Regions from separate parts of the Homo sapiens genome. Here regions 2, 3 and 4 are each reported to be linked to region 1. The links are microRNA targets in miRTarBase. Many come from high-throughput screens and were not tested one by one. Region 1 holds a microRNA gene; each other region holds the end of a gene's coding sequence.

The links. The annotated mature microRNA hsa-miR-6868-3p reads UUCCUUCUGUUGUCUGUGCAG and lies in region 1 at 4,094-4,114, shown strand. An mRNA with a match to its seed (bases 2 to 7 or 8) in the 3' UTR can be bound and repressed. Matches are read on the target gene's strand: a 7mer-m8 pairs with bases 2 to 8, a 7mer-A1 pairs with bases 2 to 7 and ends in A, and an 8mer does both.
Region 2: the mRNA of METTL24 is a reported target of hsa-miR-6868-3p. Seed matches in the 3' UTR shown: 7mer-m8 at 2,777-2,783.
Region 3: the mRNA of MAML2 is a reported target of hsa-miR-6868-3p. Seed matches in the 3' UTR shown: 7mer-A1 at 2,066-2,072.
Region 4: miRTarBase lists POFUT1 as a target of hsa-miR-6868-3p. Seed matches in the 3' UTR shown: 7mer-m8 at 5,322-5,328 and 7mer-m8 at 4,408-4,414.

The regions. Positions count from the first base shown.
Region 1 is chr17:76,093,996-76,102,132 of GRCh38, reverse strand. MIR6868 (microRNA 6868) reads left to right here and starts at 4,057; the gene lies at 4,057-4,114. EXOC7 (exocyst complex component 7) reads left to right here. Exons shown (of 19, transcript NM_001013839.4): 3 at 270-454; 4 at 757-862; 5 at 4,115-4,337; 6 at 7,552-7,719.
Region 2 is chr6:110,239,252-110,247,388 of GRCh38, reverse strand. METTL24 (methyltransferase like 24) reads left to right here. Exons shown (of 5, transcript NM_001123364.3): 5 at 1,129-3,449. The coding sequence ends at 1,443. It overlaps LOC105377937 (a long non-coding RNA gene), which reads right to left and starts at 3,319. Exons shown (of 2, transcript XR_942858.3): 1 at 3,247-3,319.
Region 3 is chr11:95,971,804-95,979,940 of GRCh38, reverse strand. It overlaps MAML2 (mastermind like transcriptional coactivator 2), which reads left to right. Exons shown (of 5, transcript NM_032427.4): 5 at 1-3,343. The coding sequence ends at 993. Among named protein-coding and RNA genes, the nearest start is that of MTMR2, 52 kb to the right of the region's middle.
Region 4 is chr20:32,233,374-32,241,510 of GRCh38, reverse strand. POFUT1 (protein O-fucosyltransferase 1) reads right to left here. Exons shown (of 7, transcript NM_015352.2): 7 at 2,853-7,038. The coding sequence ends at 6,850. MIR1825 (microRNA 1825) reads right to left here and starts at 3,716; the gene lies at 3,664-3,716.

The DNA of each region.
Region 1 (8,137 bases):
CTTGGGCTGATTATTTTAAGAAGAATTAATTTGATGCTTGGTTTGCCTTCAAATAAAATTTCAACCAATTTGTCTTAGACCACCTACTATATGCCAGGCACATGATAGGTGCTGAAGATACAGTGGGGAACAGGTACACCCTGTTCCTTCGCTTGTGGAGTTTATTGTCTAGAAAACCAGAGAAAAGGCAGGAAATGCCGAAGGTGGGTGTGTAGAAGCAGTGCTGGGACCACTGTGAGTCCCAAGATCAAGAGGCTTCCCTCCCGCAGGTGTCTATCTTATCATCCTTTGAGAGCCGCCTTATGAAGCTGGAGAACTCCATCATCCCTGTGCACAAGCAGACGGAGAATCTGCAGCGGCTGCAGGAGAATGTTGAGAAGACGCTGTCCTGCCTGGACCATGTCATCAGCTACTACCATGTGGCCAGTGACACTGAGAAGATCATCAGAGAGGGGTGAGTGAGTGAGGCCCAGAGGGTCAATTCCTAATGCCTCCTGGGCCAACAGGAGGGTTGGTCTGTAATCCCAACAATTTGGGAGGCTGAGGTGGGAGGATCGCTTGAGACTAGGAGTTCAAGACCAGTCTGGACAACACAGTGAGACGCCTTTTAAGCCCTAGGCCTTAAAAGGCAGTGGGGGGATAGAATATATTTGAGCCTGGAGTCCCCTGTATTAATTTTCTTTTTCCCAAATACTGTGTCCTTAGTCCTTCTTCATCCCCCATGCCCCAGCCTGACCTGGCTCTTTTCTTTCCCAGCCCCACAGGTAGGCTGGAAGAGTACCTGGGAAGCATGGCCAAGATTCAGAAGGCAGTGGAGTATTTCCAGGACAACAGCCCAGACAGCCCGGAACTCAACAAAGTGGTAAGGGGTCCGCAGAATAACGTGAGAAGCTTGGGGATATCAGTCTCTGCCCTGGTCTCATGAGGGACATGGAGCCAGCTTGAGGATGTATGCAGTAGAATACACAGAAGGATATAGCACAGTACATCCTATAGGCATTAGGATCTCTGCTTCAAGAATTGCACATTTTTTATTATTAAAAATTCTTTATTATAAAACTTGTTAATGTATTATAAAAATTAAATTATAAATTACATATAAAATATAAACTTAACATTTGATTTGTTGTTGTTGTTGTTGTTGTTGTTGTTTTTTCCTGAGACAGAGTCTTGCTCTGTCACCCAAGCTGGAGTACAGTGCTCAGCTCACTGCAACCTCTGCCTCCCAGGTCCATGTGATTCTCCCACCTCAGCCTCCCAAGTAGCTGGGATTACAGGCACTCGCCACCGCACCTGGCTAATTTTTGTATTTTTAGTAGAGACGGGGTTTCGCCATGTTGGCCAGACTGGTCTCGAACTCCTGACCTCAGATGATCCCCCGCCTTGGCCTGGGATTACAGGCGTGAGCCATTGCACCCAGCCACGTTTGATTTTTATAAATGCATTTGTTGTTCCTTTATTTTGGTTAAAAATACATAATATAAATTTTTTTTTTTTTTGAGATGGAGTTTTGCTCTTGTTTCCCAAGCTGGAGTGCAATGGCACGATCTCGGCTCACTGCAACCTCTGCCTCCGAGGTTCAAGTGATTCCCCTGCCTCAGCCTCCTGAGTAGCTGGGAGGGTGTGCGCCACCACTCTCGGCTAATTTTTTTTTTTTTTTGTAGTTTTAGTAGAAACGGGATTTCACCATGTTAGCCAGTTTGGTCACAAACTTCTGACCTCAGGTGATCCGCCCGCCTCAGCTCCCAAGGTGCTGGGATTACAGGTGTGAGCCACCGTGCCTGGCCAAAATGTGCTATTTTAACTCTAAGTTAACAGTGGCATTAAGTAGATTCACAATGTTATGTAGCCATCACCATTATCTCCACAAATATGTTCATCTTCTCCAAGTGAAACTCCACTCCCATCAAACACTAATTTCCCATTCTCCCTTCCTCTGTCTTCTGGTAACCACCATTCCACTTTCTGTTTCTGTGAATCTACTCTAGGAACTTGAATCTATGTGATTTTTTTTTTTGCATTATTATCTTAAGAGACAGGATCTGGCTTTGTCATCTAGGCCAGACTGCAGTGGTACAACCATAGCTACTGCAGCCTCGAACTCCTGGGCTCAGGCAGTCTTCCCACCTCAGCCTTCCAAGTAGCTGGGCCCACAGGCATGTGCAACCATACCCAGCTAAGTTTTAAATTTTTTGTAGAGATGAGGTCTCCTGTGTTGTTCAGGCTGGTCTCAAACTACTGTCCTCAGGTGATCCTCCCACCTTGGCCTCTCAAAGTGTTGGGAGGGATTACGGGCATTACCCACTGTACCTGCCTTCATCATATTTTTGTGTTTAAGTTTTGGGGTCATTAGATCATCAGAGCAAGATGGTGACTTGGCCTCTGGAAATCACAAATCTATTTTCTGTCTTTATGGATTTGCCTATTCTGAATTTCTAATATAAATGGTATCTTATAATACATGGCCTTTTGTGACTGGCCTCTTTCACTTAGCGTGATGCTTTCAAGATCAATCCATGCTATAGCATGTATCAGTACTTCATTTCATTTTCATGCCATATGATATTCCTTTTTGTGGATAGACCACAGTTTCTTTTTTTGGTTTTTTGTTTTGTTTTGTTTTTTGAGACGGAGTTATGCTCTTGTTGCCCGGGCTGGAGTACAATGGCGCAATCTTGGCTCACTGCAACCTCCACCTCCTGGGTTCAAGCGATTCTCCTGTCCCAGCCTCCCGAGTAGCTGGGATTATAGGTGCCTGCCACCACACCGAGCTAATTTTTTGTATTTTTAGTAGAAACGGGGTTTCACCATGTTGGCCAGGCTGGTCTTGAACTCCTGACCTCAGGTGATCTGCTTGCCTCGGCCTCCCAAAGTGCTGGGATTACAGGCGTAAGCCACCGTGCCCAGCCAGACCACATTTTCTTTAGCCATTTATCCTTTGATGGACACTTGGGTTGTTTCCAATTTTTGTCTCTTGTGAATAATGCTGCTATAAACCCTCTTATATATGTCATCGTGTGGACAGATTCATTCTCTTTTATGTTTGGGATACCTGTCTTTTATCAGATACATAGTTTACAAATATTTTCTCTCATTCTGTGGGTTATCCTCACTTTGTTGGTGGTATCATTTGCAGCACAAAAGTTTTCAACTTGATATTGTTCAATTTATTTATTTATTTTCTTTTGCAAACCCCCCACTAACAAGAAGACAAATTAACGGTTCAGTGAGAAAATAATCGGCCAGTATTTTTTTTTTTTTTTTTTTGAGACGGAGTCTCACTCTGTTACCCAGGCTGGAGTGCAGTGACGCAATCTTGGCTCACTGCAAGCTCCGCCTCCTGGGTTCACACCTTTCTCCTGCCTCAGCCTCCCGAGTAGCTGGGACTACAGGTGCCCACCACCACGCCCGGCTAATTTTTTTTTTTGTATTTTTAGTAGAGATGGAGTTTCACCTTGTTAGCCAGGATGGTCTCGATCTCCTGACCTTGTGATCTGCCCGCCTCGGCCTCCCAAAGTGCTGGGATTACAGGCGTGAGCCACCGTGCACGGCCAATCAGCCAGTATTTATTAAGCACCTACTTCTTGTAAAACCCTGGGTTTTACCTGTAAACACAAATTTTGAGAGAACATGAAGTAAAGGAGTCACCAAGGCCGCTTCCCAGCGTTTCTTCTTTGGGTTAAAGGATATCAGGGCAGGCCAGGTGCAGTGGCTCATGCCTGTAATCCCAGCACTTTGGGAGGCTGAGGCGGGTGGATCACCTGAGGTCAGGAGATCAAGACCATCCTGCCAACATGGTGAAACCCCGTCTCTACTAAAAATACAAAAATTATCTGGGCATGGTGGCACGTGCCTGTAATCCCAGCTGCTCAGGAGGCTGAGGCAGGAGAATTGCTTGAACCAGGAAGTCGGAGGTTGCAGTGAGCCAAGATTGTGTCACTGCACTCCAGCCTGGTGACAGAGCGAGACTCCCTCTCAAAAAAAAAAAAGATATCAGGGCAGAAAAGGGCAGAGGCCCTGAGTTAAGAAGACAGAGCTGGCACAGGCAGGGGAAGGCCAGGACTGGCAGAACACTGAAGCAGCAGGCACCTGCTTCCTTCTGTTGTCTGTGCAGAAACTGCTCTTTGAGCGCGGGAAGGAGGCCCTGGAGTCCGAATTTCGCAGCCTGATGACGCGGCACAGTAAGGTCGTCTCGCCCGTGCTCATCTTGGATCTGATCAGTGGTGACGATGATCTGGAGGCCCAGGAGGACGTGACCCTGGAGCACCTGCCCGAGAGCGTGCTCCAGGATGTCATTCGCATCTCCCGCTGGCTGGTGGAATATGGCCGCAACCAAGGTAAGGGATTCTGGCTTGGCCACATGACACACCAGAGGCAGAGGGAGTTTTCTCCCCTTTGTTCTTTTTTTTTTTTTTTTTTTTTTTTTTTTGAGATGGAGTCTTGCTCTGTTGCCCATGCTGGAGTGCAATGGTGCAACTCGGCTTGCTGCAGCCTCTGCATACCCGGGTTCCAGCGATTCTCCTGCCTCAGCCTCCCGAGTAGCTGGGATTACTGGCGCATGCCACCATGCCTGGCTAAGTTTTGTATTGTTAGTAGAGATGGGGTTTCACCATGTTGGCCAGGCTGGTCTTGAACTTCTGACCTCAGGTGATCTGCCCACCTCAGCCTCCCAAAGTGCTGGGATTACAGATGTGAGCCACCATGCCTGGCCCCCTTTATTCTTTAATCCACCTGTCATGGTTTTTTTGATAAAAGGATGTTTAACTGGAACCAATATAAGAATATAAGCAACCATTCTATGACTTGTATATCAAGTGGTGAATCTAGGCAAATTCAAACTTTTCTTGTCTTGATTTTTATGTTCCTTTGCCTTTTTTGATTAGTTGTAAAATTTTCAAAGCCATGGGTGAAAAGTAAAAGTCCATCTCCCATTCCCTGATGCCTCCATTACATAAGCCAAAGATGAGCACTATTAAGGTTTATTTATGCCAGGTGCTGTGGCTATGCCTGTAATCCTAACAGTTTGGGAGGCTGAGGTGAGTGGATCGCTTCAGCTCAGGAGTTCGAGACCTGGCCAACATGGCAAAACCCTGTCTCTACAAAAAATAAAAAAATTAGCTGGGTGTGGTGACGCATGCCTGCAGAGCCAGCTACTTGGGAGGCTGAGGTGGCGGGGAATGACTTGAGCCTGGGAGGTGGAGGTTGCAATGAGCTAAGATCACGCCACTGTACTCCAGCCTGGTTGACAAAGTGAGACTCTTGTCTCAAAAGAAAGAAGGCCAGGTGCAGTGGCTCATGCCTGTAATCCCAGCACTTTGGGGGGCCAAGGTGGGCGGATCACCTGAGGTCAGAAGTTCAAGACCAGCCTGACCAACATAGAGAAACCCCATCTCTACTAAAAATACAAAATTAGCTGGGCGTGGTGGCGCATGCCTGTAATCCCAGCTATTACTGAGGCTGAGGCAAGAGAATCTCTTGAACCCGAGAGGTTACAGTGAGAGTGCACTATTGCGCTCCAGCCTGGGCAACAAGAGCAAAACTCCATCTCAAAAAAAAGAAAGGAAGAAAGAAAAACTCCAATAGATATTCAGTGTTGCACTTTTTTTTTTTTTTTTTTTTTTGAGACAGAGTCTCGCTCTGTCACCCACGCTGGAGTGCAGTGGCATGATATTGGCTCACCGCAACCTCTGCCTCCTGGGTTCAAGCAATTCTGCCTCAGCCTCCCAAGTAGCTGGGGTTACAGGTGCCCGCCACCATGCCCAGCTAATTTTTGTATTTTTTGGTAGGGACAGGGTTTCACCATGTTGCCCAGGCTGGTTTTGAACTCCTGACCTCAGGTGATCCACCTGCCTCGGCCTCTGTAAGTTCTGGGATTGCAGGCATGAGCCACCTCGCCTGGCAATGTTGCACTTTTTAGCCCTCCAACTCTTCTCTTTGTTTGTGTGTACACATACCAAGTTGTCAGCGCGGGCTTGCCTTGCCCCAGAACTGTGTGGCGGCAGGTCTCACGGCCGCGATGTATCTGATCACATGAACACGTTGTGGCTCGTGAGCTGATGACAGCTCGGCAGAAGATTTTCAGGAGCTCCTTAGGATCAAGAGGGAGGCGCAGTGGACAGCCTCCAGACCTCTCAGCCTGTGCCTCTGTGTTTTGGTTCATTTCTTCTGTCGGGGTTCCTTGTAAACTATTTGTTGGGAACTTCTGAAATCCACCATAGTTTTCATGTCCTTTTCCTCAGTCATGTGTGCAAGGAGCTCTTCCTGTTTTTCAGCATTGATGAATGGTACCAAAATGGACATACCTTTGTGAATTGCTTTTTTCTTTGAGGAAGTTCTTGAGGGTTTATTCTCAAGGGTGCAGGGATTAGGTGTAAGTGTCTGAAGATACTTGTAACCTTCTTGCCATCACTAGCTCCTCTCTAAATAGATCAGGCCAATCGATGGACTCATCGACAGTTCCATGGCCATTTGTTCTTCATTAATTTTTGTTTTTGCTATCTGATAGGACTATCACAGTCCTCTAATTTTTTTAATTTATACTTTATTAATGGCTAAAGATGTGTGTTTTTCATTCACTGACATTTGTTGTCTTTTTGCTTCCTATAGAGCTCATGTTCTTTGACCCCTTACCAAGTTGAATCTGGATATTAACTTTGTTTTTTTATTTAAAAAAAAGTACTATTTAAAACTTACAACTAGGGCTGGGCGCCATGGCTCATGCCTGTAATCCCAGCTACTTGGGAGGCTGAGGCGGGAGAATCACTTTAACCCGGGAGGCAGAGGTTGCAGTGAGCCAAGATCGTGCCATTGTATTCCAGCCTGGATGACAAGAATGAAACTCTGTCTCAAAAAAAAAAAAAAGCTTACAACTAGGGCTGGGCGGTGGCTCATGCCTGTAATCCCAGCACTTTGGGAGGCTGAAGCTGGTGAATCATTTGAGGTCAGGAGTTCAAAACCAGCCTGGCCAACATGGTGAAACCCCATCTCTACTAAAAATACAAAAATTAGCTGGGTGGTAGTGGCTCATGCCTGTAATCCCAGCTATTCAAGAGTCTGAGGCAAGATAATTGGTTGAGCCTGGGAGGCAGAGTTTGCGGTGAGCCAAGATCACACCACTGCACTCCAGCCTGGGCGACAGAGTAAGACCTTGTCTCAAAAAAAAAACAACTTACAACTAATTATCAGTTCTATCAGAGGGTGTTTTTCTCTTTTAAGACTGCCTGGCCAGGCATGGTGACTCACGCCTGTAATCCCAGCACTCTGGGAGGCTGAAGTGGTCAGATTACTTGAGCCCAGGAGGTCGAGCCTGCAGTGAGCTGACATCGTGCCACTGCACTGCAGCCTGGGCAACAGAGCAAGACCCTATCTCAAAAAAAAAAAAAAAGACTTTGAAAGACTTTGCCTGATTTGGGACAAGATATGGGTGGCTTGTGACCAGAGCAGGGAGCAGATGCTAAGAAGGGTTGACAGGTTTGACAGGTAGACATGGTGGGTCTGCAAGGCAGAGACAGGGCCTGGCAGCCGTACCTCTATCCCTCTGTGTCTCCTCAGATTTCATGAACGTCTACTACCAGATACGCTCCAGCCAGCTGGACCGCTCCATCAAAGGACTGAAGGAGCATTTCCATAAGAGCAGTTCTTCCTCTGGGGTTCCCTACTCCCCTGCTATCCCCAACAAGAGGAAAGACACACCTACCAAGAAGCCAGTCAAGCGGCCAGGTGAGCCCCCATCCTGGCCCATCTCTGCAACAGCCAGAGGCTGACTGGGACTGTACTGCTTTAGTCCAATCTAGCGTTCGCAGCGTCAGGCCCCTCCAGAGCTTGTCGTCGTGGTAACCCCGACTGTAGGTACACAGGACAGAAAGCAAGTGTCTACCCACCCAGTGAAGCCCCCCAAGAGCAAGACTCTTCCTTCCAGCTAGCAGAGCCTGGGGTTACACAGCTTCTTTGGAGTAGGGGAGTAACACAGGTGCTCAGCGAATCCCGCCTGAGGCAGAGCCCCTGCCTAGGCCTCCTCCCTCACACACACGTCGCCCTGTCAGAAGGCCAGGCACACTACTGCAGCCAGGATGCTGGGATAGCAAGGGGATAGGTGCTCCAACCTTCACCTTCCAGAAAGGCAGGGTGATCTGAAGTG
Region 2 (8,137 bases), not on the chromosome of region 1:
GAGGCAATGTTAGGTAAGGGTTAAGAACACAGGCTCTGTAGACAGACTCTGTTCAGAGTTCATCACTGCCTCTCTAGCCATGTGACTGGGAATGGGTTCCTCACTGAGTCTGGTTTCCTGAACTTTAATTAGGGATACTCACAGAATCACCCTTACAGCATTATTGAGAGGATTAAATGGATATTGCAAGGGGAAGCCCTTAGCATGGTGTCAGGCACATATAACTACTTGGTAAAAATGAGCTTTCATTGTGTTTAGGGTTCTGGTGTTCTAACGGATTTTTTGCACAGGCAGCGAAAAGGAGCTGATTCTCATAACTTGATTAATTTGCAAAATATTGATATTACAATCCTCTTCTTCCTTTATTCTGTCTCACTTGAATGTGAACTTGTGTTCATTAAATAAGCAGAGGATGGTGTTACTGCTTTTTTTTTTTTTAAGAATGCTATACTGGTATATACATTGTAAAGAAATCATAGAATAATAATATTATTTTTTTATAGTCCAATATTCAGATACTCAATAACTTTTTCATTGATGTCCAGTCTCGATGAAGTTGGGGTTGGGGGGATGAGGCCTGCAAGATAGTCCCTGCAGGCAGTAGCCCTTTGTCACTTCCTTTCTATAGACACCTTCTGTCAGGACTTGGCAGAGTTTCCTGGGGTGGCATAGTTTGTGGGGTACACAGAGGTCTGTGATACACTCACTCTAACTTCTCCTTCTCAGATATCCATTCCCACTGGGCAGAAAGCAAGAGGGTCTGTTGTGATTTTTGCCTGGTATTTCATCATTTGTATATTAACATATATTAACATAACAGGCTCACGCCTGTAGTCCCAGCTACTCAGGAGGCGGAGGCAGGAGGATTGCTTGAACCAGGAGTTTTATACCAGCCTAGGCAACATATCGAGACCCCCATCTCTTAAAAACAAGAACAAAAAACCAAAACATTTAGTAGGGAATGGGGTTAGAAATTCATGTCATAAATGCAAATGGCCACTTGAAAACCACCCTCAGCTCTAAAATTTTAAAAATTCTGTTTCCTTCAGAGGTAGCTATAATGTGAAACTCCTGATATCAAGATAGTTTTACTAAATCTGCTAATCTCATTTCATTGCTTTGTTACAGATTGACGTTCTCAAGGCAGATCTGGAAAGTGCAGAATGGAAAGTTTTGGAAAATCTTATTCTGGAAGATGTTCTTGAGCAGATTGGACAGCTCATCTTTGAGATCCATCTCCACTGGCCTGGGTTTGAGGTCAGTGGCAGTGACAGCAGCGTTGTGCGGTTCTGGTACAGCCTTCTCAAAGAGTTAGAACAAAAGGATTTCAGGCTTTTTCACAGTTACAAAGACTTATCTAAACCTCAGCTATTCTTGAAGAAAGACATTTTCAATGCAAGTAGCTGTTATACTCTGAGTTGGGTGAATACAAGATGGAAATAGGATGCAGGATGTCATCAAGAGCACAAGAAAATATTTGCAGAATGCAGCATGTCCATAATTCTAATCATGAGTTTACTCATCCAGTCTCCTGCTAGCCTGTGCCCTGCTTGAGGCAGGGAGTGTGTTATTGCGGGCATGCAGCCTAGTGCTTGGCATGTGATGGGGCACAGTCAATACTTGTTAAAGGGATAAACACAGTCACCCCTATTTGCCCAGACTCTTCCTTCACCTTAACTTGGAAGATTATCCCCAGCTCATCACAGTTTTCCCTAAAATTCTCTATGTATCTATAATCTATGAATTCACCAACATTGAAATGAAATTATATAAATTTCCTATTTTTACTAGGTTGGTGAGATTTTTAAGTTCTTCCCCTACTGTTTAAAATAGGGTTTTAAATTTGAATTTGACCCTCCTTTTTCAAGGTTTTTCTTATTTACCTTGTTAATGATATTCTTTACAACCTTGTAGATTTCAGTCATTCCTTCTCAGCCTTTGCTGAGGCCATGCTGTGGCTTTCTAAGCAGCAATACTTCTGATTTCTGGGAACTCGGATGCACCAAATTCTGTCACTGAGTTAAAGAGACTAGACTATCAAGAGCTTCAACACGAAGGTGTAAGTTCCAGTTCGAGACCAAGTCTGAAGGTCTTGACCTCACCAAGACCCATGTCCCAGCTTGAAGACAGCCAGACAGAGAATTAATTCTTCCTTACTGCCTTAGGTTCTATTCAGGCCTTCAACTGGTTGAATGAGGTCCACTTACACTGAGGTGAAGAATCTGATTTATTTAGTCTACTGATTTAAATATTAATTTCATCTGGAAATATCCTTACAGATACACCTAGAATAATGTTTAACTAAAGATCTGGACACCCTTTAGTCCAGTTAAGTTGACACATAAAATTAACCATTGTAGGTAGGTAGGTAGATAAATAGATAGATGATAGATAGATAGATAGATAGATAGATAGATAAGATAGATTTTCCTACTGGCATGTTTCACCATTTTCTTGACTCACATATTCTGGTTTCCATCTGGCTCCTTCGGTCTGTGCTCTCCTCACTGAAGTAAGGCCTTTAATGATTACTTCATTATAAGTCCATGAGTAATATGGTTTGGCTACGTCCCCAACCAAATCTCATCTTGAATTGTAGTTCCCATAATCCCCACGTGTTGTGGGAGGGACCTGGTGAGAGGTAATTGAATCATGGGGTTGGTTTCCTCCATGCTATTCTCATGATACTGAGTAAGTTCTCATGAGATCTGATGGTTTTATAAGAGGTGTCCCCCTTCACTTGGCTCTCATTTTTCTCCTTCCTGCTGCCATATGAAGAAGGATGTGTTTGCTTCCCCTTCCACCACGACTGTAAGTTTCCTGAGGCCTCGCCAGCCATGCTAAACTGTGAGTCAATTAAATCTCTTTCCTCTATAAATTACTCAGTCTCAGGTATATCTTCATAGCAGTGTGAGAATGGACTAATACTTTGGGTATTACACTTTTTAGATTTTACGTATTTGAAAAAGCACTTGCTTTTTATACCTGAATAAAGTTTATTTGTTCACAGAAAAAAAAAAGAGCTTCAACTCAAGATGCTTTTTATACTCAGCCTTAATTCCCCTTCACTTCCTATTAAACTAAGCACAGAGCAGAATCTGGGTATCTTTGCTGTTGCCTCTTCTGCCTTCAAACATGATTTACCACCCACAGACTTGCCTATGCTGTCAAATCTTTTTTAAAAAAATACATTATCTCTAATAATGTTAAGTGCATTTTTCTTTACTCCCAGTTGGCATCACTTACATGATTGTGGCCTGAAGACCATCGTCTCACTTTCGTAGGATAGTTAGACAGTTTTTCAATAGCACCGATCCTTTCTACATTAAAAGTTAAGTGGAAAGTTTAGGTTCTCAGCGGTTCAAATGCTCTCTCTCATTACTATTTACAGGATTAAACACGTGCATAATTTTCTAAAATTCTATTTCAAATAAATAGCATAAAAACCACATTATTACTTTATTGTCAATTAAATATATTTTTTGGCATTTTTATATCCTGAGTATAAAACTGTATGTACATTGCTCAAAAACTGGGGGGAGAGAGTAGAATGCCGATTATTACTAGACTTTACCCCTTTTCCCAATTTGTACTTCCTTCTACCCTCAGACATTCCCCAGGTTAGCTCTTTGTTTCTTGAAGTGGTTTGAAAATGCCATTCCTCAAGTGAGAAATCAAATCGTCTTAGACTTGGATGACCTCACTAGCTTGAGTTGAAAAGAGAACAGGACTTTCTGAGTTAGTTGTGATAATTAAAAAATATATACACATGAGCTTTTTATTTTAAAACTCATAGTCCACTAATAAAAGTTGTTGAGCTGAGAGGACTGGCTTGAGTAAGTGTGATCTGAAAAGGCAGTTTAGTCATTTCAATGTACAGAGGTATTTCAAATGTGCAGAAGGGTCCACACACACTCTAAATTGGTTTATACTGTTAGTTATATGGTGTCATCTCCAAAGCAAAGCTAACTTTAGCCCAGTTCTGTTTGGATTATATAACAGATTTATTTTCATAAAATGTTTATATACTGAAATATATAAACATTTTTATACATTAAAGTGTAGAAAGTGTATTCATCTTAAATGTCCAGTCTGATCAGCTTTTAGATATGTAGCACACCCATATTAAGATTTTTAATTCGTGGAATTGGAGATTTAGGGTATTACTGAAAGCCCCTTTGTCTACGGCAAGTTAACTATTTATTTCAGGTTGGTGGTGTTGAGCATTGACTTCATCATGCTATATGTACCTGAAGCATGAATGAATGTACTGTTAAAAAAGAATATATCATGAACACATCCAGCCACGCTGATTGACCAGGCAGCCTGTTTAATAGTTATCCATACTTATTTTATGCTTATTTCTAAAATGGTCCTTCATTCTCTTCATGTATAGTTTCAAATTTGTGATGAATATACTGATGGTTGTTAAGGTTTTCCTGCCTCTAGAGTTTATTATGTTTATCATAAATAAACATAATAAATTTCTTAACCTCAGCACTATTGCCATTTGGGCTGGATAATTCTTTACCGGGGGAGGGCTGTTCTGTGCATTGTAGGATATGTCCCCGAGGGGGCAAGATCACCCACTGTGGAGAACTACTGGTGCAGGCCATGAGAAGAGGACCAGGCTACTATAGCACTGTTTACTTGTGAACAGGCAAACACAAGATCCTCTTATGAGGAACGGGCAAAACCATAATCATCACCACCACAACCACCACAAGAGCAACACAAACAACACATAACAAACAAACAAAACCAAGAGTTACTCTTTACTGAGAGCTAACTGTCTGCCGGACCATGTGCATAGCTTATTCCTAATTCTCACAACAAGGAAGTTTATTTTTTTCCAACATCATGAGTAAAGAAATTCTGAGAGAGGCCGGGCGCAGTGGCTCATGCCTGTAATCCCAGCACTTTGGGAGGCCGAGGCGGGCAGATCACGAGGTCGGGAGATCGAGACCATCCTGGCTAACACGTTGAAACCCTGTCTTTACTAAAAATACAAAAAATTAGTGGGCGTGGTGGCATGTGCCTGCAGTCCCAGCTACTCGGGTGGCTGAGGCAGGAGAATTGCTTGAATCTGGGAGGTGGAGGTTGCAGTAAGCCAAGATTGCGCCACTGCACTCCAGTCTGGGCGACAGAGAGAGACTCCATCTCAAAAAAAAAAGAAAAGGAAACTCTGAGAGGTTAAATGGCTTATTCAGATTACTCAAGTTGTAGATGGAGGAACAGTCATTTACATTTTGGTCTGTCAGATCCCAAAAAGCTGGTGTTTGGTCCCATCCACAATGCAGCTTCCAAAGCCTGTACCAAACGTAAGATGCTTTGTCCAAAGGACTCATTTTTGCCTCCCTATTAGTAAAACGGGAGTAGGGGGAAACTACAAATAGAAAAGGCCTGCAAGTTTGAGTCAGAATTATTTTGTAGCATGCAGGTTTGCTGGACTTAAATCATCTACTTGATTAAAGTATGCCTGCCAAATGGAAGCTTACTGAAGAAATATGGAGACCCAACAACTTCTCTGTCAATATATTTAGGTTGCCAGAAAAGCTCTTGCAGGCCTGGAAATGACTCTTCTTCTGGCTTGTCCCAGTACTTGTCACTTCCCTCCTGGGTTTTAGAAATGGCAGTCACTTGGAGTTGCTTAAGCAAAGTAATTCTCCTTTGCTTAAAACTAGTCTTTGACTTGCAGATAAATGAGCTAAGATGTGAATATCTGTGACATGCATCTCTTAACATTTTTACTAGAGCAGTGTTCATAAATGATTCTGAAAATACACATTTGATAATGCTTTTATCAAATGAGTAACAATGCTCTTTTGTAGGTGTAAGGCATATGAGGATGAAAGAGATTCACAAGTTGCCTTTTAGCATAAACTCTGTATCATAATTTGTTAAAGAAAAACAATTTTCCCCTTCTTTTCTTACAGTGCTTGTATTTGATGCAGCTATAATATAAAAGGTTATCATATAAATATTTGTAACTATTTGACATGTTCAAATGAAGAACCAGGGAGAAGTGAACAAATTTCTACTAGAATTGACTGAAGGTCCAAATTTACCTCAGGATAGGGCATAAACAAACTCACGGGTTTACAGTGTTTAGTCCAAATCAGTTATTCATGTAAGCATTTCTGCCTTAGTTATAAGATCTTTTAGTAAGTATAAGAATTGCATTTTTTAAGCATTAAATGTTTAGATTTTGCAAAGCTTGGGTTAGTCCCAGGAAGCCAGGCTTACCATATTTTGCTAGTGTAAAAATGATGACTTCATTGGCCGGGCGTGGTGGCTCACGCCTGTAATCCCAGCACTTTGGGAGGCCGAGGTGGGCGGATCATGAGGTCAGGAGATCGAGACCATCCTGGGTAACACAGTGAAACCCTATCTCTACTAAAAATACAAAAAAATTAGCCGGGCATGATGGCTACTTGGGAGGCTAAGGCAGGAAAATGGCGTCAATCTGGGAGGCGGAGCTTGCAGTGAGCCAAGATCACGCCACTGCACTCTAGCCTGGGCGACAGAGCGAGACTCCGTCTCAAAAAAAAAAAAACAAAAACAAAAGACCTCATTTAAATAGATCATTCTACTTAACAATACAACAGTACCTCCAAGCTCAATTAGTGTAATTGTTCTTTTCTGGTGGAGATAAATTTATGTTTGATTCTTAAGCAGTAACATAATTCATTTTGTACTAGCCAATTGCTGATACTTTGTGGATTCAATAATACATTTAACCTTATGCTAAAATGTCTTACTTTTTCTTACATTGAAAGAGGTGCCTGAACTTATGAGATAAAATCATAACCCAAAGATTCAATATATTCTTAGAACTGCTTACATTTAGAGATTATTGAAATTCTTTAAATGACTTGATTATATTTCTTAAGAAATATAAATCAAGCATTCTTAATGCTGTCACACTTTATAACTATATGGAGGCTGGGTGCAGTGCCATGTGCCTGTACTTCCAGCTACATGGGAGGATCACTGGAGTCCAGGAGTTTGAGATCAGCCTGGGCACCACAGGACTCCATCTCAAAAAAAAAAAAGAACCGTGTGGAAAAATGGTTTCCAACACATTAAAATTTAATGCTTTCTTAAAACCAGCAACTTATTTTCTCAGACTATTTTAACTTTTTCTTAGTGATTAGTTTTGTACAATATGGCTATCTGAAATAATAAGGGATTTAAACTTGGGAGATCGAATTTGACTAAACTATTCAAGACTAGACTAGAGAATTTCAATAGAGAAACCAAGTGTGCATAGGACTGATATCTAATCAGTATGTACCAGTAGAGAAGAGCTATGTGCAACATGGTGATTATAGTTAATAGCAATGTATCATATACTGGAAAATTGCTGAGAGAGTAGATTTTAAATATTCTCACCACAAAAAATAAGTATTTGAGGTAATGGATGTGTTAATTAGTTGATTTAGTATTCCACAATGTATACATATAACAAAATATCATGTTGTGTGCCATAAATATATACAATTTGTTTGTCAACTAAAAAGTATGTCCCTTGGAATACACTGGACATATTTATGCTTTTTTGAAAAGTACCAGTAGAGATACAGTGGTTCCCCAGTGGTCCCTCTGCACTGGAGACCCTCTCACAGGATGCCCAGGCCTTTCCCCATGACTGGGCAATTAAAGGCTAATGCACAGCACAAAAGGCAGCTTCCAGGATCCTGACACAGCACTGTGGCTTGCTTCTATTCTAACTGGCCTATCTTCTGCCTTACTTGTCATTGGATATTTTGAATATCACTCCTGGGTGGATCTATATAATAAATAAAGGTCCAAGTGTGTTCTATAACATGAGAAACTGCAACTATGTGTCAATAAAAATTATCAGTACAAGAAAATATTATTTCTCAAGGTTTGATGTCAGATCAAACATCATTTTCTCAGGGACCCCTCTTATTTAAGGCTCCCAGCTATATGTCCCCACAATGTCCTCTATTCTTCCTAACAGTGTCTGTACTTTCTCTGCTTGTATAATGTCTGGTTTTCCCAGCAGACTGTATGCTCCATGAGGATAAGGGCCATGTCTACAGCCCCAGTGGCTAAGTAAAAAGGGCTCAATAAATTTTTGTTGAATATAAATTTAAAAAGCTATTTCCAT
Region 3 (8,137 bases), not on the chromosome of region 1:
AACTCTAACCAGGCTTTGGCAAACCCAGTTTCAACACACACCATTTTAACTCCCAATTCCAGCCTCCTGTCTACTTCTCACGGGACAAGAATGCCATCATTATCTACAGCAGTTCAGAATATGGGGATGTATGGAAATCTGCCTTGTAATCAACCTAACACATACAGTGTCACTTCAGGAATGAATCAATTGACCCAACAGAGAAACCCAAAGCAATTGTTAGCAAATCAAAACAACCCTATGATGCCACGGCCACCTACCTTAGGGCCAAGTAATAATAACAATGTAGCCACTTTTGGAGCTGGATCTGTTGGTAATTCACAACAATTGAGACCAAATTTAACCCATAGTATGGCAAGCATGCCACCACAGAGAACATCAAACGTAATGATCACATCCAACACAACTGCACCAAACTGGGCCTCTCAAGAAGGAACAAGCAAACAGCAAGAAGCCCTGACGTCTGCAGGAGTCCGCTTCCCCACAGGTACACCTGCAGCCTATACCCCAAATCAGTCACTGCAACAGGCAGTAGGTAGCCAGCAATTTTCCCAGAGGGCAGTGGCTCCTCCTAACCAGTTAACACCAGCAGTGCAAATGAGACCCATGAACCAAATGAGCCAAACACTAAATGGGCAAACCATGGGTCCCCTCAGGGGTCTGAATCTCAGACCCAATCAGCTAAGCACACAGATTTTGCCTAATTTGAATCAGTCAGGAACAGGGTTGAATCAGTCGAGGACGGGCATCAACCAGCCACCATCCCTGACGCCCAGCAATTTTCCTTCACCCAACCAAAGTTCCAGGGCTTTTCAAGGAACTGACCACAGCAGTGACTTAGCTTTTGACTTCCTCAGCCAACAAAATGATAACATGGGCCCTGCCCTAAACAGTGATGCTGATTTCATTGATTCTTTATTGAAGACAGAGCCTGGTAATGATGACTGGATGAAAGACATCAATCTTGATGAAATCTTGGGGAACAATTCCTAAAGAAGAAAGGGAAGACAATTTACAAACTCCAAGCACTAAAAGGCAGTATATTACAGAAACTCTGTAGAGGCTGAACTGTTGATGTTCAGGTGGACTACATGAAGATAACATGCTTAAAAATGGAAAGCAGAAAGTAACTGCAGTGATGAACATTTTGGTCCAAATTCTTGTTTTAAATCTTACACCTGAAAGTAAAATATTGGGATCACTTTTCCCTGTCTAAACTCCAGGATACAGTATCCAATTTATCCAAACAGAACTGTGGTGTCAATGTGTAATTAATTGTGTAAAATAGCCTTCCCAAGTTTCTTTTTCCCTGGAAAATAAAAAAGGTAATAGAACTTGTAGTTTATTTAAACCCCATGTCATGAGGAGGTACTAGTTCCAAGCAACAAACTCCTTAATTTGCTCTAATAGATAGGTATGGTTTAATCTTTCCATTGTGTCTTTTCATTTAATTTTCCTGAAGCTTGCAGGATAGATTGAAATGTTATAGGTTTGTTTGGAGTAACCAAACAGTATGCAAATTAAGAAAAAGCCAGAGAACCTAGAAAACATCCAGTGGATTACAGAATTTCTTCCCCATATTCACTCCTCACTTTTACAATTTTCCCACAATCCTCTACTTCAGTGGGATGCTGTGTCTAGTGATTAAACAAAAATATAGAGCTGTGCAATTTGATTTTGGCTTCCACAACGAATATCTGAATCCATTCCAAATGAAATTTTAGATATAACAAAGACTTGTCCTAATCATACTGAAATATTGGTGCACACCTCTCTGCATTAGATTTCACTTTTTTAAAAAACCCAGTGGACATTGCTATAAATAAGATTTATTTGGCTACAAATAACCTGGGATGTTGCTTATTATGATTGATGCCTGCTGGTTTGTTCCCAAGCTGAGTGAAATTGAACCTCGTCCTCCCTACTCATTTTGATGACTGAGGCTGGTTTATAAGAAAAGGAAGTTTGGAGAAGAAAACCGAGATTAGAAAATATCATGTTTTGGTTGGAGATAAGAACCAGGGATGGCAAGTACCAGTGTGTACAAATGTATTTCACGGAGTTTGAAGGAACGCATAATCAAGAGGGAAAACAATTTGTCCTTCATTGGACGTATTATTTGGATTTGGGTGAGCAACAAAATGGAATGTGGTCTGTTAGGAGCATTCTGTTTGTTCTTTTGTCCCTGATGTGATGAATCATTGCCACATGCTAGATGGACTCTTCATATCCAGGTTTTGTCCCTCAGGGCTGAGCACTGTATTAAAGAGTTTTTGTTGAGTCATTTAACCTTAGTGTCCACATCCAGATCAGCTGTAAAATGGGGAAGACGTGTGCTGATTTGGAATGAATGCAAAATATCACTATCATTTTCCTAATTACAGAGGAGCAAAGGTTATCTTCAGCCCTTTCAGTTCTATGCTCACATATTCAAATATCAAATGTAATTTAGCTGAAGTTATTTAATAATCAAGTCTTTCAATATCTGTTCAAAGAAAAAGAACACACTTTGAAAATTCTGCAAAGCTGTCTCCCAGTCTTTAAAATGTCTGGAAGCACTCTCCTTCTTTACAATACCAACATCACTGGCCCAGAATCTTCCCTGTGCTAGTTTGTAAATATAAATAAATTACTTGTTTTGTAAACTTTTGTAAAGAATATTTTGGTAGAAATACTTCAAACATATTCTTTGGGTTATATTTATACATATGTGAAATAAATATACTATCAAAAGGTTATATTTTATACAAAAAGTAAATTGCTACCTTTTGTATGCTAATATGCAAAGTTTTGTATAATATGATGGTTTATTTTTAGCTCTACACTTAAACCATAGGTGGTTGAGTGGGAACTTTTGAAAACTATCAAGAGGCTTGTTAGACAAATTTATATTCTGAAACCTCAATAAGAAAGCATTCCAGGTTTCAATCCTTGTTTTTTGTCCTGCTCCCAAATTCTTTTTTAAACCCATAGTTCTTGTGTCTTATTTGATTCTTCTGCTGTGCACATTGTATTGGTCCTTGTTGCATGTAGTCTACTGTGTGTTTTCCGATTTTATAAGGCAGCATTTCTCCATACAAAAAGAAAAAAAATGATGTACATATAAACGCTTTTGTTGTATGGCTCCTCCATGTTACTGTATATATCTGCCAGCACTTCCCAGTTACACTCCTGTGAGTCAGCTTATTTTTACCCTAACATAAATAGTATGTTTTGTAGTAGTTATCAAATTTAAGAGATAAAGCAATCAGAATGTTTGGATTTTCTTCTATCTTAATGTGAATTTCATAATTAATGTCTATTTATTCAGCTATTCATTAAAATACAGGATTCTTTGGGAAAACATGATGTGTAGTCTGTAGTTTGTTTGTTAGCAGCCTATTACCAAAGGTGACATAATTTTCCTGAAAGCAGAGATAATGACAATTTGATAGACATATTTAGCTAAAACCTTAAGATTTACAACTTAAGAGCTATTGGAATACAATCTGCCATTTTTAGAAATACCAGACCACTTAATTGTTGGCATTGTTTATCATCCTGACATAGAGAGGAGGTAGAAGCAATTTTTCTTTTTTGTTTTAAGTCAAAGACTAGAAAGCAGTTTAAGCAAGTAATTCGGTCTTGGCTTTGTATTAAGCCCTATGAAGATAAATAACTCTGCTCTAAGTGAATGCGCTAATGTTACCTGCATTACTGTAAACGTACCATAACGGTAAAGATTTCAACTTGTAAAACAAGTATGTTGTATTGCGTATAATTTCATGTGTAAAAAACTGTTTAAAAAAATTCAGAAGTAGGCCAGGCGTGATGGCTCACGCCTGTAATCCCAGCATTTTGGGAGGCCAAGGCGGGTGGATAACGAGGTCAAGAGATCGAGACCATCCTGATCAACATGGTGAAACCTCATCTCTACTAAAAATACAAAGAATTAGCCAGGTGTGGTGGTGGGAGCCTGTAGTCCCAGCTCCTCGAGAGGCTGAGGCAGGAAAATCACTTGAACCCGGGAGGCGGAGGTTGCAGTGAGCCCAGATTGCGCCACTGCACTCCAGCCTGGCAACAGAGCGAGACTCCATCTCAAAAAAAAAAAAAAAAAAATTCAGAAATCGTTATCCTGTATGAAATCATACTTTCAGTTATCAACAATATTGTTGCTTCATTATACAAAGTTCTGAAAACTATTCATAATAATGGGTACTTAAAGGCAAGTTTAGTCTCTCGGAAGCTTCTGAACGAGTGAAATGTTGACTTGTCACAGTGTTCTTTAGTTGACTTAAAAAGTTTGTATTAACATTCTATATGCATGGCATCTACTAAATACTAGGGAAATACAACCTAATTCGCAGGCACTGTGGGCATTTGCCTGGCCTGCTGTGTGGCATTTGGTCAGACCGGCTAGTGAACACAGGCTAGGTAAACACAGCCCGACTGGACATATTTACACAGCCCTTCTTGAGAGTCAAGGAGGTTGAGAGTAAGATGGGTCTTTAGAGGAGGCAAGAAGAACCATTCCAAATTCTCCTGCACTGCTGTCTAAATATGTTGTTAAGCTCTCATTATCCCTTTCCCCTCTACTAAAAAAGTATGTGACATTGTCTTTGTTATTAGCATTATTAATAAACCAATAATGAAATTATAATGAAATTGAAAATTTTTTTTTTGAGATGGAGTCTAGCTCTGTCGCCCAGTCTGGAGTGCAGTGGCGTGATCTCTGCTCACTGCAAGCTCCATCTCCCAGTTTCATGCCATTCTCCTGCCTCAGCCTCCCAAGTAGCTGGGACCACAGGCACCCGCCACCACACCCGGCTAATTTTTTGTATTCTTAGTAGAGATGGGGTTTCACCGTGTTAGCCAGGATGGTCTCGATCTCCTGACCTCATGATCTACCCCCCTTGGCCTCCCAAAGTGTTGGGATTACAGGCATGAGCCATTGCACCCAGCCTGAAATTCACATTTTTATATAGTCCCTATTCTAATGAGCCTGGAAGGTCAGATAGGAAATAAAATCCACATTTTAAAAAAATAAATAATGTATATACAGATTAAGAGAAAAATGTGTAATTACAAAATTATCTATGAACCCCATTGTGTAGCCATGGAAGTAGAACTGAGAGTGGAAAAGTAAGTACGAAAGAGAGAAAAGCTCAGCTCCTTCCCAACCTTTAGTTGCCAAAGGCTGTTCAAATTGTTAACCATTTTATCCACAATTTCTCTTTTACATTTCTGTGACTGTTTTTGCACCCCAAAAAAAAGGGTTTGGGGCTGAAATAACACTATTCCCTTTCAACTCTAAAACCCTGTGTTAGATTTTCTTCCAAAACTAAGTAGAAAATTAGCCAAAAAAAGACTCATTAGCATCCTTTCTAAAATAAAGAAATTTTATTTTAGGAGAAAATCAGTACTTTGAGTAATATACTCCATTGGGTATATATTAATGAACTTCTGTGATTTGTAAATGGCAGTGTAACAGCTTCTAATATCCTTAAGTTCCTGTTCTCGTGCTGCTATAAAGATACTACCTGAGACTGGGTAATTTATAAAGAAAAGAGGCTTAATTGACTCACAGTGCTGTATGGCTGGGAGGCCTCAGGAAACTTACGATCATGGTGGAAGGCAAATGGGGAAGCAGATACGTCTTATGTGATGGCAGGAGAGAAAATGCACAGTGGAAATTGCCATTTTTAAACCATCAGATCTCATGTGAACTCCTGCACTATCACAAGAACAGCATGGCGGAACCACCCCATGATCCAATCACCTCCCACCAGGTCCCTCTCAACACATGGAGATTACTATTTGAGATGAGATTTGGGTAGGGACACAGAGCCAAATATCATAGATGAAGTACCAGGAGTGTCCTAGGATCAGCTTCATTGGCAGCAATAAAATAACTAAAACCTTGTACCATGAGAATTAAGAAAACATATTGACCTTAGATTTTTAAAATCAAAATGCTGTTGCTTAGGTTTTTAAAACCAAAATGCTGATCTGCATGCAATAATATAAATAGAGAGCTTCTGTTTGTTTACATAAATAGCATCTTAAATTCCCTTTTATCAAATGTAAGTCATCTTCAGCTCTAGGATGTGCAAGAATATACAAATGCTTTCTACAATACTTAGGATTCTTTCAGCAAAAGGGAAGGAGGAAGGGTAGGAAAGAGAAAATAATATATACAATACTGCATACATATATAGAAACTTCTTTTGGGGTTCTTTCAGCAAAAAGAGGATAGAAGGATGGGAGAAAGGATGGAAAGAAAACATGTCTCCAACAGGCTTAGAAAAAAGAATGTACTGCTTAACATAACTAAAACTTCTGGGAGATATTTAGTTTAGGTATGGCTGTATACAGCAGCTCAACAATGTCAAGAATTGGTTCCTTTATGTCTCTCGCCTTTGCTTCCCTGTGTCTTGTCTCCATCCTTGGGCATGCCCTTCTCTTATATTGGCAAAGTGGTTGACAACCTCCAGATTTAACATCCTCATAAGTCCATGTTCAGCATAAACAGAGTGAATGTTTTCCTTTCAAAAGACCTAACTGTGTGTCTCATAGACTTTAATTAGGGTGTGTGCCCATCCCTGAACAATCACTTTGGCCAAGGAGGTACAGTGTACTGATTGGCCAGGCCTGAATCAAATGTCTATCCCTGTAGGCAGAAGTAGTATTAATACCACCGAAACCAAATGGGCTGAGGGTGAGAAAGGGGTAATTTCTCAAAGGAAAATCAGGTTGTTATTGTCAGGGAAAAAAATAAATAAATACAAGAAACCGATGTAAAAAAAAAAAAACCTCACAAATATTTACTACCTTTTTCTGGCTGCCCTTTTTTTCATACACACTGTATTCCCCATATCTTAAATTACAAAATCTCACTAATAATCCAAACACACTCACCTTCTTCCTATAGAGAGACAATCTAAATCTCATCTGTTTGCTGCATTCACCTCTTAGACCAGCACAGCTAGGTGAGGTAAACTCTTTTGCCAAGTGAAGACAGACCAGCAACCTAAGCCCAAAAGATGTTTATTCACCTCCAGTGTATACAATAAACATTCAGTGTGGAAAGAGAAGAGGATAATGGTAAGGATGAGTTCTACTTGGAAGAGAAACTAAAATGTATAGATAACATCTTAAGAGTAAAAATTATTTTGCCCTTGAGCTTTTGAATCAACAGCTTGGGGGAGAAGAGACATAAAAACTTTCTTCTGTCCTCAGGATGCATGCCAGTTGCATTTTACATTGAGAATAATTGTCTCTTTCCTCAGAGAGTATATTATATAAGGTGCTTGGGAGGGGCCTAGAGAATCAGAATTCTCTCTGGTCCCAGTCATATCTCCTGCTAACATCCCTATCTCTCTGACTTAGTATACAATAACTTTAGCTTAGGATTGAGAATTCAACATTCTTTAAAAAGTCTCAACTGATTTCTAATTAGAGAAATGAAAACCAATTCAAATATTTCATGTGTCAGGGAGATTTTAATGCAAGGAATTGGTTGCACAGGTGATAGACAGCAGAGATGCCAAATAGAGAAAGGTGAGAACCATTTAGAGATGAACAAAAGCAAGAAGCCACTACAGCTTCTAGGATGCAAGGGCAAAAATACAAGGAGCCAGGATCACTAAGCAGATGCTGCAACATTGGCTGGCCTGTCTGGTAGGAGCCAGATCCAGGGAGAAGTTTCAGCTGTTAATGGAAACATCACTTACGACAGAGAGGGAGGAGAAGGAATACAATCCCCACCCTCACTCATCTTCTCTCACTCTCCAGGAAATGTATCTCATTTGCTGAACTCAGCTGGAACGTAGTCTGAAGGAGGGCATTATAGATCAGAACAGAAAAAGGGAAAGGAATACATCTGCCAATACATTGGCCCAGGTCTGATATAACAAGCCTGCAGCTTTCTCAGGAAAGCCTGATTTTCCTCATTCTCTGTTTTCAAATACATTAACTTAATCTAAATTTGTCCGTTTATTACAGAATGGTATCAATTAGGAAACTGTTCATCGCAGGTATTTGAAATCCCACCTGATGGTGGTTTAAACAGAGAAGGGTTTTTAAAATATTTCATGGGCTCTAAGAACACAAGTTTTTCATATTTTTTATTTGTAAAATTAGGTAATCATTTACAATT
Region 4 (8,137 bases), not on the chromosome of region 1:
AGCCCATGTTACTTATTATTACAATTTCAAGGTTCTATGGGAGCTCAGAAAAGGAGAATTTCATAGAATCTTGAAACATTTACGATATGTTTTAAGCAGAGCAAAAGCTTAGACAATAGTGCGGAGGTGTGAAAAGTGAGGAGAGTTTCTCTCACAAAAGCCCCTTGGGTATTGTTTTGAGCTATCTTCAGGGGCCAGCCGAGTAAGGATCTCCCAAACTTTATCTTCATAATTCATGCCACACCATCTACTTAATACTTTTTCTCTGAACCAACTCACTTTTTGTAACCTAAGTTTCTTAAAAGGAAACTTTAAATCACATCTTTAAACAGAAAAACACAAGTACAAAGGATCAAAAATAAATAAAATGGCAGGGCACGGTGGCTCACTGTAATCCCAGCACTTTGGGAAGCTGAGGCAGGAGGATCCCTTGAGGCCAGGAGTTCGAGACCAGCCTGGGCAACACAGCGAAACCCCATCTGTACTAAAAATACAAAAGTTAGCTGGTGCAGTGGTGCGTGCCTGTGATCCCAGCTGCTTGGGAGGCTGAGGTGAAAGAATGGCTTGAGCCTGGGAGGTTGAGGCTGCAGTGAGCCAAGATCAAGCCACTGTACTCCATCCTGGGCAAGAGTGAGAACCTGTCTCAATAAATAAATAAATAAATAAATAAATAATTCATTTATTTACTTAGTAATAGTGTTACTAAATTCCAGAAAACTAAGATTGTCTGACTCTGAGGTCTACTCTGTTACAAGGACAGATTATTAGCAAGCAGTAGAGAGGAGTTAATGACACAATAGCACTGAACTGAGACTTTCTCTTTGGGCATTGTTAGCAGGATTGAGAAAAACTGAAAAGATAATTCTTGCCTTCTGCCAGTGCCTGCCCAGGACCTCCTAAACCAGCTTGTGCAGTGTCAGAGAGGGGAAAACATCCCCCACACTGGAGGAGATGAATATCAAATGGATCAATGTGTTGCCAATTTTTTTGCAAAGGTGGATTTTTCAGAGGGGTGGGGTATCCTCCCCGGGGTGCTGCCCCCAGGTGGGCATTGTTCTGAGTCACTGCACTTGAGGAATGGGGTTTCTGGGAAATGCCTTCTGTTTCTTCCATTCTCACTGTTTACCTGGTTATGCTTGGCATCCTGGGCTGATGATCAATAAAGGATTAGATGTAAAAACAAACCAAACCTGCTTGCCCTTAAATAATGTTATTTCAAGGGAAAGGTCTCAACCCTGAAATAAACCAGGTTTCAAGCAAGAATTTGAATTCACTTTGACAACATAATCCAGAGTGCAGGATTTGCCTTCAGGCTATGGGTTTTTTCTGTCAATTCCACTAAGGACAGAAGGAGAACTGAGGAGAGGAAGGATCTTTATTTTCAGGCCAGTGAAAGCTTATTATTATTTTTGTTGTAGTTACTATTAATAGATTATTTGCTGAGCTTCTTTGAACAGAAAATAGAAATGAGAACTCAACTCTTTCTTCCTCCCTCTGTCCTTTCTCCTCTTTCTTCTTTATTTTCTTATTCTCTCTCCCCTCCCTTCCAAATGTCTGGAGATCTACAATGTTTCAGGACAGTGTTTCCAGCTTTGGTTCCTTTGAACACCAGCTTCTCCATTTCTCTATCCAATCAGATGCAGATTTTGAAAAATGGAATTCCCTTTTAATTTTGAAAAATTGAATTCCCTTTTTTTTTTCCTCTCTTTTGAGACAGGGTCCCACTCCAATGTCCAGGCTGGAGTGCAGTGGTGCCATCACAGCTCACTGTAGCCTCGACCTCCTCCTGGGCTCAAGTGATCCTCCCACCTCAGCCTCCCGAGTAGCTGGGACTACAGATGCATGCCACATGCCTGGCTAATTTTTGCATTTTTTTGTAGAGACGGGGTTTCCCTATGTTACCCAGACTGGTCTCGAACTCCTGGGCTCAAGCGATTGGCCTGTGTCAACCTCCCAAAATGCTAGGATGATGGGAGTGAGCCACTGCGCCCAGGCTTCCCTTCCTTTTCTTATATATAAATTTGGGCTGACCGTAAAACAATGAGATTTGATCATCTGGTTGTAAAGCCCCTACAAATATACAATAGGAGATGTAGGTCAGTACAAACTGGGCAGCAGGCAGTTCCTAAAGCCACCTTGTTGACCATGCCTGGTGGAACCCGTGAGGCTTGCCAGGGAGGGGCTGCAGAGGTCTTCCATTACCGTGGGCTGAATGACCACACAGTGAGATCCCCACTTCCTTCAGATCAGTGTTGCTCAAGTTTTAGCCCCAAGAGAGCTTAAGAGATTCCTGGGCTGCGTCCCCAGAGATCCTGACTCAGTGGTTCTGGGCGGGGGCCTGGGATTCTGCATTTCTAGCAAGTTCCCCCAGGTGATGCTGATGCCGCTGGTCTGACGACCACAGTTTCAGGTCTTGGGCCACTGGGCATCCAAATCACTTGCAGGTGCTTGTGAAAAGGCAGATTCCTGGGCACTACCCCCGAGACATTCTGATTCTCAGGTTCAGGGTGGCTCCTGGGAATCTGCCATATCAACCAGCCCTGGAAGGAACCTCTGAAGACCACCCTTTGGGAAGCACTGCCTAGACCATTAGCACCTGTAATGCTGAGGTGAGGAATGCGGAGGTGAAGGGATTTGCTTCAAGGTCACTCTGCAAGTCAGGGACAACTCCCTGGTGCCTGGGCCCTAAATCTTGGAGCACCCTGGGCTCCTCTTTCCTTCCCAGTCCACATTCAGCATGTCAGCAAATCCTGTTGGCTCTTCTTTCAAAACACATTTAGGTTTTCTTGAAGACTCTAGCAAACAGACTTGGGTGTGGGAGAGTCAATGCAACTAGACTGGTAAAATGTGGGTCATTGTTGAAACTGTGAGTTCATTTTATTACTCACAATTTTTTATTTATATTTGAATTCTTCCATAACAAAAAGTTTTAAGTGTTTGATCTAACAAATTCACTTCTGGGAATTTATCTTAAACAACTTTTTTTTTTTGCTTCCCGTCCAACAACTTTATTAATGAACATTTTAAATAAAGAAAAACTCTTACAAATAAAAATATTTTTTCAAATAACAATAGTGAAAAATTGGGGGCACATGAAGTCTCCTTTTTTTTGAGATGGAGTCTCGCTCTGTTGCCCAGGCTGGAATGCAGTGGCACCATCTCGGCTCACTGCAACCTCCACCTCCCAGGTTCAAGCCATTCTCCTGCCTCAGCCTCCCAAGCAGCTGGGAATACAGGCATGTGCCACCACGCCTGGCTATTATTATTATTTTTTTGTATTTTTAGTAGAGATAATTCACCATGTTGGCCAGGCTGGTCTTGAACTCCTCACCTCAAGTGATCTGCCCACCTCGGCCTCGCAAAGTGCTGGGATTACAGGCATGAGCCACCACACTTGGCCTAAATTCTCATAATAGGAAAACAATAAACTATGGAACACTCCTCGACAGAATTTTTTATAATTAAGAGCATTTATCCAGGCTACATACCAACAGGGAAAACATGATACACTATTAAGTAAAACACTAGGACATTAAATTGTATATATTACATGATTAAAACTATGTAAATATTTGTATCTTTGAAAAAGACTGAAAAATAATTACATATGTTCAGAATCTAATCATTTCCCACCTCCTTCAATGCAATGGCCTTTGTCTCTTGGGAGAGGAGGGCACTGGAGTCCTAGTCTAGGGGAGCCCAGCACCCCAGTCTCTCGCCTGCAACCCTGTTAACAGCCCTGCACTGGTCTCTCTGCTTTCACCCTTTCTCTCTCCAACCTCCTCAGCACTGGCCAGCTAGAGAGGTCCTTCAGAATGTGAATCAGCTCATGCCCCTCTTCTGCTCAGAACCCTAGGAGGCTTCCTGTATCTCTCCAACTAAAAGCTTCCTGCCATGGCCGTCCAGGCTGCAGAATGTCAGCTCGCCTGCTCTGACCTGCTGCTCGGTTCCCTGCCTATGCCTGCCTCTCCAGCCATGCTGGCCTCCTGGCTGCTCTTCAGGAACACACTCCAGTCTCGGGGCCTTTGCACGTGCTGTTTTCTCTGCCAGGAATGTGCTCCCTCCCTCCTTCATGACAGCTCTTCAGAGAGGTCTTACCTGGGCTCATCTAAAATAGATCCACTCCCTCTTTTTGCTCCCAAACCCTTTATATTTCTTTATAGCACTTATTAACATGTCCCACAGTACATTTATTACATCTTCTACTTTCTAGAATGCAAATTCCTTGAGAACAAAGACTTTACGCTTGATTCTCTCCTGTATCCCCAGTACCTAGCATAGAGCCTGACACATAGTAGGTGATGAACAAACACCTGCTGAATGCAAGACTGTTGTACTGAGCAACCATCCAACGGGGGCTGTAAGCGGCATGTAGGCTTTGTTTCTTGGGTAACCTCCCCTCCTTAATCCTTCTGGCATAGGCAGACTCACAGCAGGTACCCAGTAGAAGGTAAGGTGGCTGATCATTTTTCCATAGGAGGTCTCCATGGCACACAGGGTAGAAAGTGCATTCTGTGAATTAGAGGCAGCAGAGCATGGCAGCTAATGGAAACTGGCTCTGGGAGGTCAAATTCTGGCTTAACACCACCAGCTGGGCAGCCTTGGGAAAATTATGACAATTCTCAGGGCATTAATTTTTCCTTGTGCAGAAAGAGAAGGATAATGACAGCTCCTATTTCCCAGGGCTGGGGAATAAATAAGAGAATGCCCCCATAAAGCAATTAGCAAGCACAGTGCCTGGCATGGAGGTGACGAGCAACGAGAAGCAGTCAAATTAATCAACAGCCACATTTGTGCCTTTGTCTCTTTCAAGTTTACAACGTGCTCTTATATACATGCTTTAGCTGATCTGGGCCTTTGAACAACCTGTCGGTTTTTATCACCATTTTATAGGTAAGAAAATTGGGTCAGAGGAAAAAGTGCTAGCTCACAGAACACAACTGAATTTTGCTAGAACTTCTGGTGCCCTTTCTTTCAGAACACAAGTGATTATTACTGCTGATATGAATCAAGGTGATTTGGAGCTGGGCATGCAGTCTCAGCTACCAGAGAGGCTGAGGCAGAAGGATCGCTTGAGCCTGGGAGATCAAGGCTGCAGTAAGCCATGATCATGCCACTGCACTCCAGCCTGGGAGACAGAGCAAGGCCCTGTCTTGGGGGGAAAAAAAATTAGGCGGGCCCCACTGGAGCCCCAGACTCTAAAGTGTGTGCCTAGTGTAAGGCTGTGGATGGCAAATGAATTCCAAAATGAAATCAGCCAGCCAGCTACAGGCTTACAACCTAGTGGTGGCAGGGAGTGTACGGGCTCCCTCATCTGCAGCTCCTTCTCTGGATGAGGCTTGAGAGCAAGTCTGGACAGGCAAACCATCTCTCAGTCCACCCAGGACTTAAAACACTTCATTGTTTTCCCAAAAGGGAAAAATAGCAAAGCCCTTTCTGTACAGTTTCTCCTGCTTAGAGTTGGGTGGCAGCTCTATACAGCAAATGCTGACTTTGCTGTTTGAGATCTTTGATACAGTGTGACCTCTGAGCTCTGAACCAGGCTGCCCCTGACAAAAAAAGTGTTTCCTCCCACAGGTAAACAAGGAAGAAGGCACTGCAAGGAGCTCTGGGCCTGGCTCAGTGGAGGCTCTGCCACCTTTCCAGGATCAAAGGCCAAGGGAGGTGACATGGCAAGGAAAAGATCTACAGGGGTCAGACAAGGAATTTTAGAACCACAAGGTCAAAAAACCATGGGCTCTCAGGAGTCACAGATTATTAAAACTGCAGCATTTGAGACCAAAACACTCATGACTTAGAGCACCTTAAGCCTCATGGTGTTGGCAGAGATTACATTGGAAGGGAAGAGTCAAAAGGTGCTTCTCCACTGATAATTCTGATGGCTTCTGGGCCCTGGGCATCTTCTGTGAGGTCAGAGCCTTGGCAAACGTTCCCTCGTGAGAATACGGCCTGAAGGCTCCAGCTGCAGGAGGACGGCTGGGAGAACAGGCTTTGGATATCAACCGAATGCCAACATTCTACCAACCAGGCCCCACTGGGGCAAGAGATCAGAAGAGATCTGATGGTGCCAGGTTTGCAGTGGCCATCAACCACCAAAAGACTGTGAGAACAATACCATGATAGTGTGGCTTGATGGTATGTGCTCCTTGCCAGGAACATGCTGCGTGAGTGGCACTTAGTCGCCCACAGAGCGCTGCACAGCACCACAACCGATAACTTCCATTTGCATAGTGTTTACAGCACAGGACAGCATTCATCCCCCAAGCCCCAGAAATGGCCTAGGAAGTAGGGGACAACAATGGCTCTGGCCAGGCAGTGGGGATGGCTCTTGAGGGCCACATTGGGGGACACCTTGAAAAGCAGCCAAAAGACCCACACCAGCCCCAGCCTCATCCACATTCAGTTAAGGTCACTTTAGGTACCTACATTAATAGAATTCAATGATTTTCAAAAACCACAGAGAGTTCTAGGATAGTCATGACCTTGTATCAAAATTATAGAAATCTCTCTATAAAAAAATCTCTCTGAAGAGTTCAGCATCCCAGGCTGCTCAGAGCAGAGTGGACCAGAAGACGGAGGCTGGACTGCTTTGCCAGTGTGAGAAATTCCCAGAAGAGCAGAAAGCACGTGCGATGGGAGATGCTCCTGCTCCTAGGAACCTGCAAGTCCTATGCCCTGGGATATGGAGCGTCTCCCTCCTTGAGGGGTCCCTGGCACTCTTCTCCATCTTTGGCAGGTGAGAAGAGGAGTTTGCAATCCCGGAGCACCTCTGGCTGCCAGGCCTGGCTGGAAGGACCAGCTCAGACTCTGGTCCCTCCAGGATCAGAGGGTCTGGTGCTCCGGCCAGAATCAGAACTCGTCCCGCAGCTTAGGGGGCCTGTCCATGCCGAAGAAAGAAGACGGCCTCCCCTGGAGGTCCCGCTCCCGCTTCACAAAGGCAGTGAAGGAGGAGACACAGTTGCCAATAAAGTGGTCGGCTTGGCCGAGGATGTACAGGTCGACCTGGGCCACCTCAGGCTTCAGGCTCACCACCTTCACCTGCAGGAAGAAGCACAGAGCATATAAGCTGGGGTGGCTACAGGCCAAGGCCTGCCATCCACACCCCCAACCTTATTCCCTGAGCTGCAGTTACAGACACAAAAGGAGGGGCAGAGAAGAGGAAGATGTGGTTCAGTGTCTGAGGGAAGCATTGCCCAGCTGCTGCCTAGGCCCACCCCACCCTTCCGGGCTCCAGGAGCCTCAGCTCCAAACACACCATTCACACCTTCATGTCTTCACTTGTGCTGTTCCCTCTGCCTGGAATGCTGCTTCAACACCCATTAAAATACCGACCAGACTCTTTTATTTTATTAATTTTTTGAGATGGGCTTTTGCTATACTGCCCAGGTGGGTCTTAACCTCCCAGGCTCAAGCAATCTCCCACCTCAGCCTCCCAAGTAGCTGGGACTACAAGTGTGCACCACCACACGTGGTTAATTTAAAACAATTTTTTTAGAGGAGGAGTCTTGCTATGTTGCTCAGGCTGGTCTTGAACTCTGAGATTCAAGTGATCCTCCTGCCTCAGCCTCCCAAATAGCTGGGATTACAGGTGTGAGCCACTGTGCTTGGCCTGACCAGACTCTTAAGGCTAAGCTCAAATTCTATTTTTCCTAAAGCCCTGGCCTGGTGGACTTCCCCACCAAACCAGAGAGGGGAACAGAGAGCTCCACACCTTCCAATTCTGGGCTGGATGCCTCCATCTCCCATGTACCCCAAATCCAAGCCCAAGGTCCGTCCAATCTACCCCTGAGATATTCCCCAAAGGTGAGCCCTTCTCTTGAGGGAGGGCCACTCCTTGGGCCCAATCATCACAATCTCTTGCCTGATGGACTGCAACAGCCTCTCCCTGGTCCCCTCACTGCCTCTCCTGGTCTGCTCACCACAGAGCAGCCAGAAGAAACTTTTCGAGATAACCTCACACCTGTCCTTCCCGCCCTCCAAGTGGAACACCCTTTAATGATGCCCTATTGCCCTTCAGATAAGGGTGACAAATTGTGAACGTGGCCTACAAGGTCCTCGCTGGGCCTCTTCTTATCCCACCCCCATCATCCAGCCCCTACCCAGGCTCCCGCCCTCCTCAGGACCTTTGTGCGTGCTG